Linked DNA regions of Homo sapiens: all the other regions are linked to region 1. The links come from fine-mapping of genetic effects on gene expression. A gene starts in region 1. Each other region holds a variant in brackets. All regions are shown on one strand. Distances are between the middles of the regions. Region 1 holds the start of SNAP25 (synaptosome associated protein 25). Region 2 has its middle 39 kb from the start of JAG1. Region 3 has its middle 63 kb from the start of MKKS.

Evidence for each region.
Region 2: its variant is fine-mapped to the expression of SNAP25 in esophagus muscle (GTEx, PIP above 0.99).
Region 3: its variant is fine-mapped to the expression of SNAP25 in lung (GTEx, PIP 0.94).

What each region holds. Positions count from the first base shown.
Region 1 is chr20:10,214,652-10,221,452 of GRCh38, reverse strand. SNAP25 (synaptosome associated protein 25) reads right to left here and starts at 2,623. Exons shown (of 8, transcript NM_130811.4): 1 at 2,476-2,623. It overlaps SNAP25-AS1 (SNAP25 antisense RNA 1), which reads left to right and starts at 1,947. Exons shown (of 5, transcript NR_040710.1): 1 at 1,947-2,216. It overlaps LOC124904959 (a long non-coding RNA gene), which reads right to left. Exons shown (of 2, transcript XR_007067723.1): 2 at 6,134-6,327.
Region 2 is chr20:10,709,698-10,716,498 of GRCh38, reverse strand. No RefSeq gene overlaps it. Among named protein-coding and RNA genes, the nearest start is that of JAG1, 39 kb to the right of the region's middle. The variant G/A (reference allele first, on the strand shown) is at 3,268.
Region 3 is chr20:10,367,913-10,374,713 of GRCh38, reverse strand. No RefSeq gene overlaps it. Among named protein-coding and RNA genes, the nearest start is that of MKKS, 63 kb to the left of the region's middle. The variant A/C (reference allele first, on the strand shown) is at 3,910.

The DNA.
Region 1 (6,801 bases):
TTAAAATGGGAAATTTCTCGATTTTTTTTCCCTGGAAGCTTGTCAATGATATAAATGTTAAATTCATGGTTCAATGATATATTTTTTAAATTTCTCAGTAAGCTATTCTAAAATTAGCTTTCTAATTGTGCACATTGCTTCTTCCTCTCAGCTCTGTGCCCTTTGCCATCTTCACTGCGGTCCTCTACTTCCCCCGCTCCTCCCCAGTCTTCCACTAGCAAACAAACCCAGCAGTAATTACTAATGTCCAAGCACGTAATTCCGGCAGCATTAGGCTTTTCATTTGACGCAACTACGCAGACAGCTGTCTGGACATGCAGCATGAAGTTAAAGCATTTTTAAAGATTCCTGCCCATATTTTCTCTCCTCCACTACTAAAACACAGTTGTTTATTTTTGTCTGCAGATTGCAAAGTTATAAACTTCTTTTATACGTTTACATACTCATATATAAATGTCCACCCAAATAATTTTACATCCATGCAAAATAACAGATCAACATATACATACATGGAAACACATGGTCATCTATAAAAAGAAAAAACACTAGGAAATAATTAAATAGCAGCGAATGAAATTACCTTCTGTATATGGACAGGGAATTTTAGTGTCTGTAGCATACAGATGATAGGAGGTATGACTATCTAAACACAATCCAAGTTCTCATTTGGGGTCTTTTAAGGGGATCATGATAGCGTTTCTTTAATGCATTGTATAGATTATTACATATGACGCTGTTACTCTTTTTTGCTAATGACTCAAATGGCATAATTTTGACTCTGGTCATTTTTATGCCAGTTTTATCTACATCAAACAGAGAGAAATACCCCTGATGACTTTTGCTCTCTCAGATGCTCCAAGCCTCAGAGTAGAAAATGGTTAAAGTAGTTATTACCACCTCAGCAAAATCCCGCAGTGCCATAAGAGAAATTGCAGTAGACCTTTAGGTCAGAGTTAAGTTCTAGTTTAACACCATGGTTCTTTACCTGCATTACCCTGAAGGACACACTTGGATTCTCCTGAGGAAGGCCAGTCTTAATATTGTCAAAATCTAAAGCTATCAGCCTGCGATAACCAGTGCTGATAGCAAATACTTCCAGTAACTCTGAAACCGTGGCCAAAGAGGTTAAATCTATTCAGTACAGGACCAGTAAAATTTCTCAGATATGTGTTTTTGTGGATGAATGCTTGTATTCATGCCTGATTGCAAGGATGGGGGAAGAAGGAAAAGGAAGAGTGATTCATTCTTAAAGTTGATTCTGCTTAGTTCAGCTAATCTCACATTTTTATCAAATGGAAACATAGAGAGAGATGTATCATCCCTATAAACAGATAGCATTGGCTTCTTCATATATACAGTACTTATGCTCACCCAAGATCTGTAGACAGATCTACTCTGTGTTAAAAAACAAAACCAAACAAAAACCTTGATACCCTGCTGGAGGATAAATCCATATTTTTTAAAAAATGTATTTATTTTCTACGTAAAATAAGGGTCAGAGGGCAACACAGAAGATTTCCACAAGTAGACTATTTTGTTGAAGCTATGCAGGAGGTGAGGAGGGGAACAGGAAATTGTCTGCAAAGGAGTCTCTGTGAGGAAGATTTATTTCTTTCTTGTTTTCTTTTAAGCTACTATGACTCCTCTATTAAGGGTCTCCGTAAGACCGGGGTCTCAGGGAGACAATTTGGTCTCCAGCCCTGGCACATCCAGCCCCGGCCAGGCATTTCTGCCGCAGGCAGATGAGGCGCTGCGGCCGGACCGCTGTCCCCGGTGCTGAAAGGTCGAGGGCGCCCGCGCGAGCCCTCGGTGTTGCTATCCAGGGTGCTGAGCGCGGGCCGCCGCAGTCCCCGAAGCCAGCCCACCCGCGCCAGCCCTCCGCAGAGCCCTCCCACCCGGCACGACCCGCCCGCCTCCCGCCAGCCTGCAGTTGACGTGGAGCAGGCGGCATAAATCAAGTCCGCGGGGCATGGAGGCTGCTGTCGCTGCAGCAGCTCAGCTTGCCCGGGGCGGGAACTCCCCCTTTCTCCTTTCGCCTCCCCAGCACCCACACCCTGTCTCCCCCTTAATTCTTCCCTGGATAATAGCACCCTAACGACAACAGTCATAATAATAGGGTTAGAACGACAGGGGAGGAAAACTCAACAGCCTAAATATCTCTGAAAACTGCATCGCAAAATGGAAGAAAGAGGGGGTCCCACTACTGTTTCAAAAGAGTAAGTTATTATTCGGTACGTACCCTCGCTCTTCCTCCCCGTCGCTCCATTTGCAGGGCTCCCGTTTCCCTTTTCCCCAGCAGCTCACCTCGAAAACACTTTATAAAGCCCCCACCAGACGTGCACACACGGAATACCGCACCCTAAGTGCACCAATACTTGTATTTACCCAAGCCCACTCGGACTGCCCAGCTGCTGTCCCTTCTGGGTATGCAGCCATCCCGAGCCAGAGCCACGACCTGGGGAGGGGGGTTCTTACCTGGGCTTCTCGGGAGGGTTGTGTTCTCCGGGCCTCTGCAGGTTGCAACTGTGGTGGAGCCGCCGAGCAGGGAGGGAAGGAAAGACAGCGCCTGACCTCCCCGAGGTTTCGTCTTCAATGCAACGTGAGCTCTGCCCTCATCAAAGATGGCCGTCCGTTTTGACGTCAGCAGCTTTTAATAGCCGCCCAGCGAGGGGCGGGAGGAAGTGGGGGCGGGGCACGGCGGGGGCGGGGGCGGGGCCCGGGCTGCGGCGCGCTTGACTCGGTTCCCAGTGCGCTGGCCTGCAAACCTGCGTGTTTTCACCTTCTATAAACACCCGCACGGGGCGACTCTTATGACTCCATTTTAACACTCGGTCTTGGGCAAACGCGTTCATCCCGCAACTGCATTCCTGATGTTCTTTGGTGTGTGTGCGTGTGTGTGTACATATGTGTATATGTGTGTGTATGTATATATGTATGTGTGTGTATATTTTATAATACATGTATAATATATGTATAATTTGTGTGTATGTGTATATATTCCCCCCCACCCCCACCCCCACCCCCTTTCAGTGGAATCTGTGGTTGAGTCATCTAAGGAGAGGGGAAGGCAGAGGAGGGGTAAAAGGTAGTGATGGGAGGGGTGGGGGAAATTTCAGCGGCGATTTGTTTTCTCCGAAGAGGGTCCGTAGGGGCATCCCCGTCCACCCTCGCCAGCTCCATATATGGCCAGGCTACGTGGGTTGCTATTTTTATGAGTGATTGCTTCATGTTATCGAAGCAGCGTCGAGGGCTTGTGGCTCTCGTTGCTGTGGTCAGCCGGGCAGCGAGGCTGGCGCACGTTATTTTGAACTACGTCAGAGCCAGGCTCTCTGAGCTGTTGCAGGAGTCGGGGGAAGGAGAAGGGAAGCGGAGTTAGCCCAGCCAGCGTGGGTTTGCAAGGACTCGAGGCTTGAAGTTGAGTTGTTTGCCGAGGGCAAAAACGGATGACTCTGCTTTCGGTGGAATTTGCAGTCGGTGCTGGGGTTTCATGCTGGGTGTCTTAGGGGTACCCCACGGAGGCACAGACGCCCCGAGGGAACCGTCCAAACGGCCGGGAGGAGGTGGGGGATTCAGAGCAAGGACGGCTGGGACACGGCCGAATCTGGGGGTTCACTCAGTGCGCAAACCCCGGGGTACCCGTGCAGGCTGCCTCGGGGGGCCCTCGGATGCTCAAATCAGGGCGGGGAGACAAAGGCTACTTGTGCTGGTCGTATTAGAGATTAAAAGTGATAATTATAAAGCAACAACCCTAACTGTCCTCCCTGGCCGTGCCCGGGCCCGGGAAGGGGGTGGTGCGCGGATCGCTCGGCGGTGGCAGCCTCCCGGATGATTCACAGGTGTTGGGGAGGCTGTCGCGGGGCTCTCCGCAGGGAGGGAGGGCTGGGGAGCGCGTGGGAGGTGGGGGACCTCGTCTGAGGAACTGTTTGTACTTTTCCGGGAAGGATGCGATTAGAAGTCGTGCCTCGCAATGTTAAAACTTGATGGCCTCTTTTAGGCTATGGAAAATCCTTGTCTCGCTTAGGAGAAACCATTTAGAGCTGGGTTCGGAAAAGCGGCGTACAACCTCTCCCCTTGCACCCTCGCCCCCCACCCCCGCCCCACCACACACACACACACACACACACACACACACACACACACATCCCTAGCTGGCCTGAGAGCCAAGCTTAGGCAATAATACGGCCTTTGATTGCGCTCCATTGCGGAGGGAGGGAAGCGGGGTAGGGGGAAGGGAAGAAGAGTTGTGAAGGCGCTGCGTTTAGAAAGAGACGGGTTGTTAAGAATTTAATAAAGGATACCTTTAATCGAAATTAGTAGACATAATTGTTTCTTAAAGATTCCCTGGCCTGAAGGCTTTTTTTTGACGTATTGATGTTTTTGCCATAATAATTAACAGTGTTTGGATGTTAATTAAAGCCAAATTCCTAAAAAAGGCATGTTGCTGAAATTTGTTTACTTAAATATTCATTAAACATTTAAGATTGCCATACAATAAAGAAGAAAATCTGCAAAGTCCTTAGATACTTAATTGCCAATAAAAGTCTCTTGAGTATGGCTCTTACTTTCATTATAAAGCAAGTTGGAATAGGGGGAAAGGGGTTTGAATGCAATGTACTGCAAAATCCTTTGTAGTCAGAATTTTTTCCAAAGTGTGACACTTTAAAAAAAGGCAGCATGCGGAAGTTTGAAGAGAAAAAAAAACCTGCAGAGGGAGAAAAAAAAATGTGTGTATGGCCCTCAGACTAGAAATCATTCAGGCAGAAAGTTTTGTGAAGGAATGGAGGAGGTGGGGGATTTTCCAAGTTAAAAAAAAAAAAGAAGTTAAAAAGCAACTACGTCAGTGATGGAGGCTTATCCTGCAGGCAAAAGCTATGTAGCAGTCACAGGGAAGGACTGGCTTGGTATTCTGAGTTTTCAACTGCTGATGCCCCACACTGACATCTATAAAAATGACAGACAAGAAGAGAGAGGCAGACTGTTTCAAGGCATTACAGAAAATACCATGGACCCTACAAGATTAGCTGGTGGTGGTGACAATGTTTTCCATTGCTAGTGCTTGTTGTGAAAATGATGCTGTTTGAGAGGTTCTTAGAGGTTCTTCATCTTGCTCTGGGAAAGGTAACAGAGTGTAATTTGAGATACATAAACATTGGGTACATAAAAATCTGCTAGGGATGACCAGATAACCCTAAATGTATTTTGAATAGGATAATGAGATTTTTTTCCCTTAGGATTTTCTCACGGCATGATTAAAGCAAAACAAAAACAAACAAGAAAACGTCATCATCTTTGCCAGTAGAGAACCAGCAGATTCATGATACTCAGGGTTTGCAAAGGCCTGAACCACACAGGGAAGGAAGGTGATGGAAAATTTGTTCCAAAATGGTTCAGCTGCTATGGGTTATTTCTGCAAAGAACTAACACACAGAGTATCTAATGCTTAGGATGAGTAACGAGAAAATTACCTGCTCTGCTAGATGGATATTTACACTGTGATAATTCAAGCCTCTGAAAGCTTTTTTGGTACATTATGCCCCAAAGTATTCTGGTTTGCAGTAGCTCTAGGTCCAAGGTATTTAGCTTGTATCTCCAAGGTAAGGTGCAAGATTCATAGTTGACTCAATAACTACAATTTTATAAGTCATAATAATAATAACTTTTCTAAAATCCCATGTGATCTTTCCAAAGTCAACTTGGAAGCAGTTTAGAGATAGCCCAGCTCAGAAGCCCTCTCTCCAGGGTCCTCCTTTGGGACATGCCTGGCACCCTATGACAATGTTTCAAAACACTGTGAGGGCAAAGAATATTCAGTTCTGCGCAAGAATATTCAGTTTGATAGAGCAACTGTTTTGATTCCTTGGTTTGCTTTCCAAGTGGTTTGCTTGCCACTTTCTCTTCATATATTCTTCTAGCCCTTAATCCAGCCCCCCACCCCATTTATATATAGTGAAGTAGCGGTACCTTAAAATGCCTCGAGTAGTTTAACTCTAGGTTTAAACTATCCAGGCTGTTCTTGTTCCCTGAAGCCTCTAAGGTAGATATAGATCTTGTGAAAGGTAAAAAGAGAACCAGGAATATTAGTTGCTGTTTCTGGTTTGCCAGGTTAAGAAAAAATAGGACTGTACACTCAGAATATTAAATAACACTTTATTCTTTATTACAGACAGTATGGTGAGAAGGAAGAAGGGGAGTGTCCAGCAGCCACAGGCTGGATGTTTCCACACTTTTGTTCCTTGATGCACCAAAATTACAGACTTTCTTTTACAATGCATCCTAGGACCCTTCCCAATGCTGAGACACGCCTGTGGTCCAGTAGGGAGGAAGAACCTGTGACAATTAGGAACAGAGAGGCAGAGAAAATGGTAGTCCAAATTAGTACACTTCAAAAAGGCTATTTGTTAGGGATCACAGTATTCCTTGAGTAAATCTTTTAGGAATCATATTAGTTCTGTAACCTCTTTGTATCTCAATTATCTCATAGGTAAAATGGAGACAATAATTATAGCAAATACACAAGGAAATTATGAAGCACTGAGTGTCATGTCTAGCACTATGAAGTATTGGCTAAATAAAATCTATCATTTTGATGAGACTTTAACTTTATTTCTCTAAGAAATGACATGTAGCTTGGCTTTAATATGGAGGATTGCCATTTTTTTCATTAGCTATTAATTAGATATGTATCAATCATACTGGGCCTTGTTTTTTTCATCTATATGAACTTATTCATTTACTCAATATCGAACACCTGCCATATGCTTAGCACTGGGGTCTAGGAAAAATTGAGTAGAGAGTTGAGGG
Region 2 (6,801 bases), 500 kb before region 1:
GTGTGGAATCCCCACCTGCATTAAAAAACCTCTGCAATCTATAGGCAAGCATGCCTACTGCAGTGAGGATTATTCTAATAAAACTGGAGTTTGATTGAAAACAAAAATAAAAACAAAGTGATAAGGTCCAACATATAGTTGCTGATATGGCCAGTCTTGCTTCCCTTATCACTAATCAGAATCTGGCAGCATGAGTTAGATTTTGTCATCTAAGAAAGATTTGCTTCTCTTTCTTATATTGGCATGTATTGTGTAAAGAGACTATAGCAAAATCCCAGCAGCCCAGCCAAGTAAAAAAGACTACACATGTTCAAATAGAGTGAAAGAATACTGCATCCTGTTGTATGGTATCCTGTCATGTCAGATTTTATTGTATTTCAGAGCTGGAAGCAACTTAAATATCATTTTATAGCCTCCTCATTTAATAGGCAATGCAAACAATGGCACAGCTTGGATACATATTCATTTAATAACTATTTAAATTTATTTAAATAAGTATTTGTTCACAGAATATTTACCAAGCCCCTACTTTGTGCCAGGCACTGGGCCAGGCCCTAAATATATGATGGGAAATAAAGTAGAAATAATAGTAGATGATCCTTACGCTCACAGATATTGCAACCTACTTGTGGAATTTATTGATAATAACATCATAGTTCATTAAAAGCTTTCATATAGATCACTAGTGTTCAGTAGAAACGTATTATGAGTCACTTATGTAATTTTTATATTTCTAGTCCTGTCTCCAGAGGTGAGAGTCCAAATCAATTGGCTACATTTTTTAAAATGTAAAAAGAAATAGGTGAAATTAATTTAATAATATACTTAATTTAATGCAATGTATTTAAAATAATCAATATAAAAAGTTATATAGTCAACACAAAAAGTTATTGATATGTTTTACATTCTTTTTTATATTAAATCTTCAAAATCCAGTGTGTATTTTACATTTACAGACATCTCAATTCAGATGGTAAATTTTCACCAGAAGTATTTGATCTATATTTAGATTAAAATTTACAGTTTAAAAAGAAGATTGGCAAATTCAAGTTGTATCAGGCATTCTTAAAAGTTTTCAAAGACCTGAATCAAGCAGGTCTTAAATTTAAGTTAATCAAAATTAAACACAATTAAATAATACAGTTCCTCAGTCACACTAGACCCATGCCAAGTTCTCAGTAGTCCCATATGGCCAGTGGCTGCAGTATTGGTGCTGTAGCTCTAAACGGCATCCTTTTATTTTTCTAAGAAATACATGAACAAAGCAGGGCAGGCATTACTGCCCACATTGTATACATGAAAAACAAACAAGCCTCGGAGACAGATAAAATGAGTCATCTGAGGCTGTACACTACTGCAGTGAGTGGTGGAATCAGAATTCAGTCCCAAGACTCCCAAAGCCTAATGATATTTCTCCTCCACCTCTCTGTATTAAAAATGAGAGTAAAGAGTCCTGTTCTGTTCACAGCACTATGTTAGGTTGTACAGAATCACAAATGCCAGATTAATAAATCTGGACTTGAGCCAGCCCACAGGTAACACACAAGTAGCCTAAGAGCTGAATTTAGCCACAAATGTGTTCCATTGAGCAGGTCTTGTTTTTCTTTTGCAAATCTAAACTTAACTGCTTCTCAATAGGACATGCATTTTTTAGTTTACCAGAAACCTCACCACCCCCTATTAATCATAACCATTCAGTTTCACTCACTTACTCTTCTTTCCCTAGCCCCTGATGCTTTTGAATTTGCAAACCCAGTGAGGCAACAAGCATCATTAACAGTTTTCAAGCAAGGAATGAGAGTCACCCAATACTGCTTTCAAAAGACTAATCTGGTCCTCTGTGCAGGCTCAGTTGGTATCAGTAAAGACTAGAATCTAAGAAACTAGTTTAGTACTAGCCTGTTTAAAACCTCATTTGCCCCTTTCAGATTTTTCTTCTAGCTCTCATTAAAATATTTTTTGACCCCAAAAGAATCTTCCAGAATATCTAAAGTTTTTAGTGACTCAAAAGAAGCTTTTAATGAAAAGATAGAGCTACACACACACACACATAGAGCTGGTCCCTACCTGCAGGGCATCTGGATGACTCCTATGGAAGGCTTTTGAGTTCAAGATTAAGATAAGGATTTTAAAGATGTAAAGACATCTTTTTTCCTCCCCTGCTTCCTTGCTAGGATGCACTGGACAAAACTTATATCTTCTATATATCTGTGTTCTTTTCTAGTCAAGTGAAAATTTATTAAAGCAAAAGCAATCAATCAAACTTGTTTTTCCAATATGAGTTTATCAGTTAATCTGGTGCCACTATGACATAACATATTCATCATAACTTGGGAGAAGGTAAGAATTTGTTTAAGTCAATTCACTGAAATAGTCCAACTACATTTTTTGTAATTCATTTCAGAGTTAGTTTTCCAGATACGAAAAATATGTTCTATTACTTGAATCTACATGTTTTGATGATTGCGTTGAGTAGGTGAGTCTAATACAAAAATTCTCAAACCTGAATATTAGAGTTATGGGGTGGGAGTTGGGGAAGAAGTTTAATTAACAAGCAGATTTCTGAGACCCAGAATTAGATTCTATAATAATTCAGTAGGTCTAGGGCATCTCAAATCCCATAGGCGAATCTGATGCAGAAGATACCTGTATACCACATTTTGAGAAATATGGTATGAGCAATTGGCCATGGATCACAGCTCTTTCACCTGGATCAGAGATCCCTAGATTTATTGAAGATTACTTACCAACTAAGATGAAGTATATTGATTGCATTCATAGTGCGAAGTAATGGTTGCTTTGTGTGCACACTTTCTGCAATGTGATTCTGTGGATCCTCCCGTCAAGAGGAAGATTCTACTTCCCTCCCTTTCGAGTCTGGGCTGGTCTTGTGATTTGCTTATAACTTTGCAGTGAAAGTATCAGCACATCAGCTCCAAGTATGGGCCTTGAGAAGTCTTGCATGCTTCTGTCTCTCAGATCCTTGTCACCACCATGGGAACAAGCCCAGAAGAGCCTGCCAGAGGATGAGACTGCATGGAAGAGATTCCAATTGTCCCATTCAAAGTGACCTTAAATCAGCCTACAGTCAGCCAGCCATTGAACGTGTGAAAGAGCCCAGCCTAGAAAAACAGAGCTCCCTATCTGTCCCACAGTTGGCTAGAGACTCACAGTGAGCTGGCCAGTGTCAGAAGTATCCAGCCAAACCAAGGGCAATAAATCTTACTGTTTTAGGCCACAGAGTTTGGGGTAGCTTGTTATGTAACA[G/A]TGCTAACCGACACATAAGGCAGAGTACCTACCATCTGTCCTCTCTTCAGGCAAGTTTGAATGAGAAAACAATTCCTTCATAGGAAGAAAATACATCTGTTATTGTGGCAGATAAACCCATGGGCAGACTCTTACCATTTGATTTCACTGGGTTTTATCATGGCCCTATAGTTCTCCCAGCACTGGTGGACCAAGGTGATGGCCAAGGAGAAGTGATATCCAGGCCCCAAATAAAGTAATAGTTAATAACAAAAAGCAATGTTATTTAAAAGCATTGCAAGATTAAAGACCCAAGCCAAAACTTAATGAAGAATTTTTTGTGTGTGTTCCATCAAGGTCTTGCTGTCCATTCACCATAAAAGAACATAGTGAAACTCTGTCTCTACTAAAAATACAAAATAATTAGCTGGGAGTGGTGGGTGTCTGTAATCCCAGCTACTTGGGAAGCTGAGGCAGAAGAATCGCTTGAACCTGGGAGGCGGAGGTTGCATTGAGCCAAGATAGTGCCATTGCACTCCAGCCTGGGTGACAGAGGGAAACACTGTCTCAAAAAATAAAAAAAAATTTAAAAAAAGCAAAAGGAACACAACAGATACAGACTTTATTCTTTTGAATGATAAAGGAGACATGTAATCTGGCATTTTTTTTCATGTTTCCTGTAAAATCCTTCTAGTCCACGTGAATTCTTCAAAAGCATTTACAAATCAGATCTTTTAAGGCTCCCTAAATGCAAAACCAAAATTCAGACTTTTCCAATAATTCAAATATGGCTCTGCTGAATCTCACTGCTGCTAAATTATTGCAAGCTGTTTCATGTGTCTAGAATCCAAATGTTAGAAAGATCAGGTCTCATAAAAGAAATGCATCTTTGGGGTCTTAGAATATTCATCGTTTTGGCACCAGTTGCATTACTCTCTTCTTGTAAAGAAATGTCCATGGCACAGGGAACTCTTGGAGCAGTGGGTCGCAGAATAGCAAGCATGCCATATGCTCAGCAGTTCACAAGCACAATGGCCTTATGTCAAGGGTGACATTTTGACTAAGAATCTCTTTACAAACTCGACTTTACATGAATGTAATGGGTATGTCACATTCAAAGGCAAAAAGAGTTACTTCTTTTGTTTGACAGATAATTATTTCACCCGTACAGAAGAATGAACAAAGCCTGTCAAAATCATAGCCTGTCCTCATCGCTGGCCATCTACAAACACACAAAAAATGGAAATGAGACTAACAAAGTCTATTTGCCCATTAGAGCAAATATTGACCCCACTGGCCCCATATGCTTTCCATACCTTTCTTAAAGATTGCTCCTTATAACAAAATGACCAAAAAAGCCAACAAAAGAGCCACAAAGCTACTAAGTCACATTCTGTAGCATTTTATAAAGTTACATATGCCAGAAAAGAAAACAGGGAGAGAAAGCTATATCACAGACTCCAAGACGATTTCCCACACCTTTCAACAAATTTCCTACCAGGTATGAGTCCCAGGTTTTTATAATCCTAAAGCAAGGAAAGTCCTATGGTTTCATAATCCTCATACTTGGAAGCAAAAGTCTAGAAGTCAAAATATTTCTAGATCATATTTTCAGAAGAAGGTTTTCTCGCCATTTTAGGTTAAACCTACAGAGCCTCAGGCTTTCTGATTATACGGATCCTGACGTCTGGCTGTTTTACTAGTAGCTTAGTGACTTCCAGTTCACGTTTGCCAACACTCTAGGAGTGCCCTCTTAGTGTGAGCGGTCAGAGATGATTAACTGAAAAATATTTCCAAGTTAAACATTGATTTGCCTCTGCCTCCATTTATTCCTATCTTGGATGACCTTTCTAACTCTTTTTTTTAAACAAAGAAAGCAGGCACCAGTGGCTTTGCGTTTCTCAGTGAAAAGCAGAATTCTGCATTTGTTAGTTTTTGTGGTTTTATCTTATAAAGAAATGAGTAGGGTATTGGGGCAATCCAAGGGAGACTATTTGCTTTTCTTTGAACACACTCACACACACACACACCTACACACATAGATGCACACTAACTCACACACACAGGCACACAATACATATAGACTCATACATACATACACACATTCATGCACACATATACACACAGGTGCACACACATACACACAAGTGGCCACACACACCTATACACACAGATGACTCACATACACACAGACACACACACACAGACTTACACATACATACACACAGATACATACAGAAATACATACACACCCCCCACCCCATACTCATGACTTGAATGAGGTCATTCTGTTATGTTTCATTTCAGTTACCATTTTACTTCAGTATTTGATCTACACCAATTCAGAAGGTATGAAACTAGCTTAGCTTATGAGGGAGCTGAACGCTCTCCTCACAGTTTTCTTCCTACACTTTAGGAAAATGGCCTTATATATTTAAAATAGCTATCTCTAGGTCTCAAGCCCCTATTTTTGAATCCATGACCAAATCCTGCTGCATTTGAATCTCAGACTATTTCCAAAGCCCATAAAATTTTATATTTTGATAGACTTCATTATATTGAAAGAGAGAGAGTGAACATCAAGGGTAAAGGAGAAAGAATACTATGCTGAGGTCAAACGAATGAAGCACAGGTATCTGTTATGTTATTTCTTTATTTCCAACATATCCAGCTGTCTCACAGAGGCTAACATAAAAACCAAAACATCTGTGCACATGAAAGATTTTTCTTTTTACTAAAGATATATTGTTTAATTTTTTATATATTTTTTTCATACAAATATAATGTACCCTTATTCTAATTTTTGATGTCCTTATAGAATCTGGAATAAGTTTGTATAGCAAAGATAAGAAACAACTTCCTGGGAAAAGGGCATTTATGATCTAAAATTATCTAAAATATCGCATACCAAAAAATAGGCCAAATGTGTTTACATCTTTTTCTTTATCTTTTTTTTTTTTTTTTTTGAGATGGAGTCTCACTCTGTTTTCCAGGCTAAAGAGCAGGGGCACAATCTCGGCTCACTGCAACCTCTGTCTCCCAGGTTCAAGTGATCCTCCCACTTCAGCCTCCCAAGTAGCTGGGAGTACAGGCATGCACCACCACACCCAGCTAATCTTTATATTTTTAGTAGAAAAGGGGTTTTACCTTGTTGGGTAGGCTGGTCTCAAATGCCTGACCTCAAGTGATCTGCTGACCTCAGCCTCCCAAAAGTGCTGGGATTACCAGTGTGAGCCACCAAGCCCAGCCTCTACATCTTCTTCTGATGAGAAATTTCGCACGTGAATATTGGTGGATGTTAGGAAATTATTGTTAATATTTTTAAGGTATGATAATTTTGTTGCAGTTTATGCTTTTTTAAAGTATTATCATTTTTTAGAAGGTAATAGCAATCGATAAAATATATGAAGTCAGAGATTTGTTTAGGAAGGTTAGGGAGTTTTGCTGCAAGATTAACTATAATTAATTATTGAATCTGGTAAAGGGTACTTTAGTGTCTGTTTAAAAGTTTCTATAAGACAATATTTTATGGAAAAAAATATTTTTCTATTGGCT
Region 3 (6,801 bases), 150 kb before region 1:
TGCTCTGATGGAGATAATTACAGCAACATCTCCCGTACTCAGTGCTTGAATATTTTCTCTTTTTCTGCCTACATTCTCTCTTTAGTTGATTTCATCCTGTATCATGGCTTTAAGTACCAGCTATCTACTCCCAACAGGATGTCTCCTCTGAACTCCAGATTTTTACACTAAATTGCCCAGCCAACACCTCCACTCATATGTTTAATACTCATCTCAAACTTGACACTAAGCTCATATGGTTTTCTCCAAATCCTGTGCCTCTCACAGTTTTCCTAATCTCAGGTAATGCTGCCTTTAACCTTCTAGTTGCCCAGGCTCCATCCTTAACTCTCTTTCTTTTGTATTCCATCAGCAAATTCTAACGGACCTGTTTCTAAATATGTTCCAAATTTAACCACATCTCTCTACCCACCACTGTCACCATTATTTATTGACTAAACTATTGCAAAGTCCTCCTAATTGGTCTTTTCACATCCACCCTTGCCTCATCCCACAGTCTGCTCTCAACACAGAGGGCAAAGAGAGTATGTTAAAAATTAGTTAATAAATAAATTAGATCATGTCATTTCTCAAACCCTCCAATGGCACTCTATCCCATTCAGAGTAAAATGCAAGGTTGTTAGTAAAACTTACAGACCTTACAAGGCCTAGTTCCCTTACCTCTCTGATTTCGTATTCCAACTTCATCTTTTTTTTTTTTTTGAGACAAAGTCTCGCTCTGTCACCCAGGTTGGAGTGTAGTGGCATAATCTTGGCTCATTGTAAGCTCTGCCTCCCGGGTTCATGCCATTCTCCTGCCTCAGCCTCCCAAGTAGCTGGGACTACAGGCACCCGCCACCACGTCCAGCTAATTGTTTGTATTTTTAGTAGAGATGGGGTTTCACCTTTTTAGCCAGGGTGGTCTTGATCTCCCAACCTCGTGATCCACCAGCCTCGGCCTCCCAAAGTGTCCAACTTCATCTTTTTATTCACTGCATTACAATCACAATGGCCTACTTCCTGTTCCTCCAGCATATCAGATACACTCCCACCTCAGGGCTATTGTACTAGCTGTTCTCTTTGCTTGGAATTTCACTCCCTTATACCCACATGGTTCACCCCTTGCTTAACTCAGATTACTACTCAAAATTCTGCTTTTTAGTAAGACTTTCACAGATCACCTTATTTAAAACTTCAAACCTCCTCCTTTCTGGATATTCATCGTATTCTTTCCTGCTTGATTTTTCTCCTTAGCTAGTATTACTATCTAACATACTATATATTTTACTCATTCAATGCCCAATTAGGAGCCAAATAAAATACTTTAAGCAATTTGGGAATTTGGAAAAGGGGGAGATTCATAAGGCAAGACTTCATGGAGTGGGAGGATTTGAGCGGACTTTTGAAGAAATGAGTGGGCTTTGAATAGTCAATGAGACGTGTACGGGTAAGAAAGTTAATACCTTTTGAGAAATGCAAATCAAAACCACAATGAGATACCATCTCACACCAGTTAGAATGGCAATCATTAAAAAGTCAGTAAACAACAGGTGCTGGAGAAGATGTGGAGAAATAGGAACACTTGTACACTGTTGGTGGGACTGTAAACTAGTTCAACCATTGTGGAAGTCAGTGTGGCGATTCCTCAGGAATCTAGAACTAGAAATACCGCTTGACCCAGCCATCCCATTACTGGGTATATACCCAAAGGACTATAAATCATGCTGCTATAAAGACACATGCACACATATGTTTATTGCGGCACTATTCACAATAGCAAAGACTTGGAACCAACCCAAATGTCCAACAATGATAGACTGGATTAAGAAAATGTGGCACATATACACCATGGAATACTATGCAGCCATAAAAAATGATGAGTTCATGTCCTTTGTATGGACATGGATGAAATTGGAAATCATCATTCTCAGTAAACTATCGCAAGGACAAAAAACCAAACACCGCATGTTCTCACTCATAGATGGGAATTGAACAATGAGAACACATGGACACAGGAAGGGGAACTTCACACTCTGGGGACTGTTGTCGGGGGGAGGAGGGGGGGAGGGAGAGCATTAGGAGATGTACCTAATGCTAAATGACGAGTTAATGGGTGCAGCACACCAGCATGGCACATGTATACATACGTAACTAACCTGCACATTGTGCACATGTACCCTAAAACTTAAAGTATAATAATAATAAAGAAAAAGAAAAAAAGAAGTTAATACCTTTTCCTCACCCATTGCAGGGGTCATAGCTGACACGTCTATAACAAAAGACAGATTAACAAGAGAAAAATGTAACAAATGTATTTAATCAAAGTTTTATATGACATGGAATCTTCAGAAATGAAGACCGAAAGATGCAGGGAAAACTGTATTTTTAGGCTAAGTCTGATGAAATAAGTGGATAGCTGAGGAGAAACATGACTGGACAAAAAGTGCATGATCTAGTAATAAACTGAGGAGGAAATTCAGCAAAGTCTCTTTGTTCAGCTTCTTCTTGGTCTCTCTGTGTAGCATTCCTTTCCCCAGGACATCTGTCATATGAGAGTATTATGATCTACTTTCAGGAAAGGTAGGTCATAAGGTCTTATGGCTTGCTTTGGGGAAGAAAAAGGGGTGAGAGACAGGATGGGGGGAGAAGATCAGGGAAACCTTCTAGCTTCTGAGGTCCTTCCTATCTCCTTCAGCTCAAAAATACTCAGTGTTCCAAAAAGTATCACAATACTTTGTAATACTGTGTTCTGAGTCCTGACCAGAGAAAGGGAGTAGTCCACATAAGAGAAGGTGTAAGCTATTTTCCTGAGATTTTTGGATGCAAAAAGATCTGACCTCTTAGTAAGTAGAGGATTTCAGTACTTTTTTAAAAAATTGGCACCTCCTTGAATGCAAGAACTATTTAATCTCTGTGTTCTCAAATTTTATCTATCTGGCATGGAATAGAAATTTAATAAATGTTGGGTGGATTATTCAATGAATAAATGGATGGATGGATAAATAGAAGATGGAGGTAGGAATGAATAAGGGATGGGTAGATGGATCAGTGGGTCAATGGATCAACAGATCAAAGGATAGATGAGCAGGCAGATGACACAAACTCTTGCATTCAGCTGCTTCCTGTTTAAATGACATTTGTCTCTAACCATAAAGATGATTCTACACTAGTGGATCAAAAGACTCAGATAATTTTGACCTACAACTGAAAAAAATCTTTCAAACAAACTATAAGACATTTTCACTTTTCTTTATGCTACTTCTACAGGTTCAGTCACTGGAAAACTTTCTATATTGGAAACTAAAGTTCCCTGTCATGCAATTCAAAACTAGACTGTGAAACAAAAGCTGATTATTAATTTCTTGGTCTAATCTTTATATGTATTTGGTAGGGAAAATGATAATTATCTTCATTATATAAGTGAAGCAAGTCAAAATATCATGCTTTGTGAATTCCAAGATGCTCATTTTTTCCCTCACATTTTAATATCTCTGAAATAAAGATGTATCTTCACACATCAATGGTGTTTTAGTATTGTGTCATAGTTTAATTGGCAGCATTTTTTCTCTCCTGGTGGCATTTTTTAAATGGTTTATTTGATAAGCATTGGTGTCTTAGAGCCATGAAACAAGATCAATAATTATCTCAACGTGTCAAACCCAGTCTATGGTGGAAGTGGGACTGGAACTAAGATTTCCTCAGTTTTTAACCAGTGTTTTAAAGACTAGATGAAATTTACACTAAAAAATGGAGCCCTTGGCAAATTGCTTTTATACCATACCTTATAAATTTAAAGAAACTATCATTCTCCTCTTCATGTCTCCCATTTGATGTTACAAGGGAAGAAATGTTGAGTTTCAGAGACAATATCTTATGATAATTTTCCTGCAGCTGGTACCTCGCCTAATGTTGCCAAATATAGCAAATAAA[A/C]ATACAGGAATGTTCCACATGTTGGATATGTTGGGGTTCATAAAACAACACCCCTAAATATGGCTCTTTGGCGTGCAGAACAAAGGAAGCAGCCTCAATATCTCTCTGATCTCACCAACCACCCCGATCCTGTCTCTCAACACTTCTCACAAAGCACAAGATGAGGTTATTCTCTGAAATTCCCTTATCTGCCTAGAAACCAGACATACCAAAAAATTGCACAATTGCCTTTGATTTCTTCCCTGAAATTCATCAACCAGAGAAGAGATAAACTCATATCACAGAGAAAGAGACTGAACATTAAACACCATGTCTAGAGCCCAGGCAAACTTTGTCCCAAACCATTGTTTGTTCTCAGGTCCCAATCAATTTCCAAAGAGAATCATTTACAAGATACTGCCTGCCACCCAGGTCCATTCATTCCGCACTAAAAATTATTCACTCCTATATCCCCATCTCCTCTTCCCCTATGAAGACGGGCATATATGCATCTGGACCTCACTGGGTTATTTGAGTAATCATCCTCCAGAATTCCCCTGTGCTTATGCATGTTAAATAAGTTTGTATGTCTTATTCTCCTACTAATCTGCCTATTGCCAGCTAATTTTCAGCAAACCTTTGGAAGGCACACGGAGGGGAAGCCTTCTTTTGTCCCGTATATTTGGAACAGACGCTGAAAAATAATGTATTGTTAATCTGAAATTCAAATTTAACTGAACATCCTGTATTTAATCTGGCAACCCTAACCTCACCCAACTTTCACAAGAAAGGAAATCAACAGACTGGTTTAACTTTCCACAAGATTCCACAAGAGTGCCAAGCAGGGGAGCTGGGCAGGGAGGTTGGGGCTTCTCCAGTGGGGTGGAAGGGCATTGTCTGACCCATGATCTTGGGAGCTCCGCTGATTCATTTCTTAAGATTCGTGCTGGAAGTGTGCCAAAACTCATTTCGGTTGAATGCTAACTGGCCTAGTGTTTAAATAAATATCAGACTGAAGCCAACTATCACCAACTTAGAAGGAACTTCCGGGGTAGACTGTTCTCTTTTAAAACTCATAGGTGGAATGGAATTTAATCATGAAATAAAAATACAGTTTTTAAAGGTTATTTTAATGTCATGAATAATAATCTAATAATTCTGCAAAGATTTCAAATATGTTTTACATATAATCCTTTTATTCTGCCTTCCATTCTTATTTAAAATTGTGTAAACATTTGTTGGTTCAAAAAGGATGGAGTGTTCCTAAAGTTATCTAGTAGAGGCATTCTCTCTTTGTAACTTTATTTTGTAGAGACAGGGTCTTGCCCCATTGCCCGGGCTGGAGTGCAGTGGCACCATCACAGCTCAGTGCAACCTGGAACTCCTGGGCTCACGTAATCCTCCTGCTTCAGCCTTCTGAGTAGCTGGGGCTACAGGTGCATGCCACCACACCTGGCCAAGACATTCTCTTTTACTAGATTTCTATTAGCTGCTGATCTTGCTTGACTTAACTACTTGAAAGCTTTAAATTATTGATTTTGTAGGTAAAATCCTCAGCTTTCACAATCACTAATTATAGTAGCACTTTAAACTCCTACAATAATGAATATATATTTATACTCCAACTTACTGATAGCATTTTAACATATAAAGGTTACAAGGAGATTTTTCACACCAGGTTATATCTAAATGATCTAGATGCTTACCTCTATTCAAAAATGAATATTCAGATATTAATGATAGATCTGAAATATGTACAATAATTATATATAAATAAAAATAAAAATAAATAATACTCCTGAAAGAATGGCATGCTTGTTTTATTTAATTTTTTCTTGAAAACACTGAAAATGTGGTCCTGCATCAGCCGCATTACTTGGGAGGAATTCACAGGCTCTCAGGCCCACTCCAGGCTTTCAAAATCAGACCCTCTGAGGGTGGGGCTGTGTTTAACTAGCCCTGCAGGATACGCAAGTTGAAGTTTAAAAAGCCCTGACCTTGCAACAGAAGGACCTGGCAGCTGGTTAGAAATGCTGGATCTCAATCCCAACCCAACCTAAGGAACTGGAATCTGCATTTTAACAAGATGCCCTGGTGATTTGTGTGTACCGGTAAGTCTGAGACACGCTGCCCTAGAAAATACTGTAACTGAAAGTTGTGTTTTATTCGCTGTCTCTAACCAGCTGATGCTGATGAGGAGCCTTCTAAGTAGGAGGTAAATGGGTACCATCCCTCTGAAAAACCCAGTCTTTTATGAAATCCACACCAAACCCATTCCTGGAACTAAGTTCTTATCACCTGCTTCAGACACATCAAGTTTGCCAAGGCTGGGCATGGTGGCTCACGCCTGTAATCTCAGCACTTTGGGAGGCTGAGGTGGGCAGATTACCTGAGGCTGGGAGTTTGAGACCAGCCTGACAAACATGGAGAAACCCCGTCTCTACTAAAAATACAAAATTAGCTGGGTGTGGTGGCGCACGTCTGTAATACCAGCTACTTGGGAGGCTGAGGCAGGAGAATCATTTGAGCCCAGGAGGCGGAGTTTGCGGTGAGCCGAGATTGTGCCATTGCACTCCAGCCTGGGTAACGAGAGGAAAATCCGGCTAAAAAAAAAACAAAAAACCTAAAATTTGCCAAAAGACTAATATTTTATTTTCTCTTCTTTCTGACCTGATGACGCCTCTCCCCAGTGTGTTGAGTTGCATTCCCCATCCACCCCCTTACTTTACCACTAGGAAAAAGATCTGATGTGTGAGGGTCAGAGTCCTGTAGACAGCTAGAAATTGACTTTTAAGTTTGAACTCTAGGTTAAATATTGATTGATTTTGATCTCTCAACCTAACACAGTCTTTGGGAGAAATTATTTGTGTTTAACCACTCTTATGGCCATAAGACTATTGCTTAAATTTAACC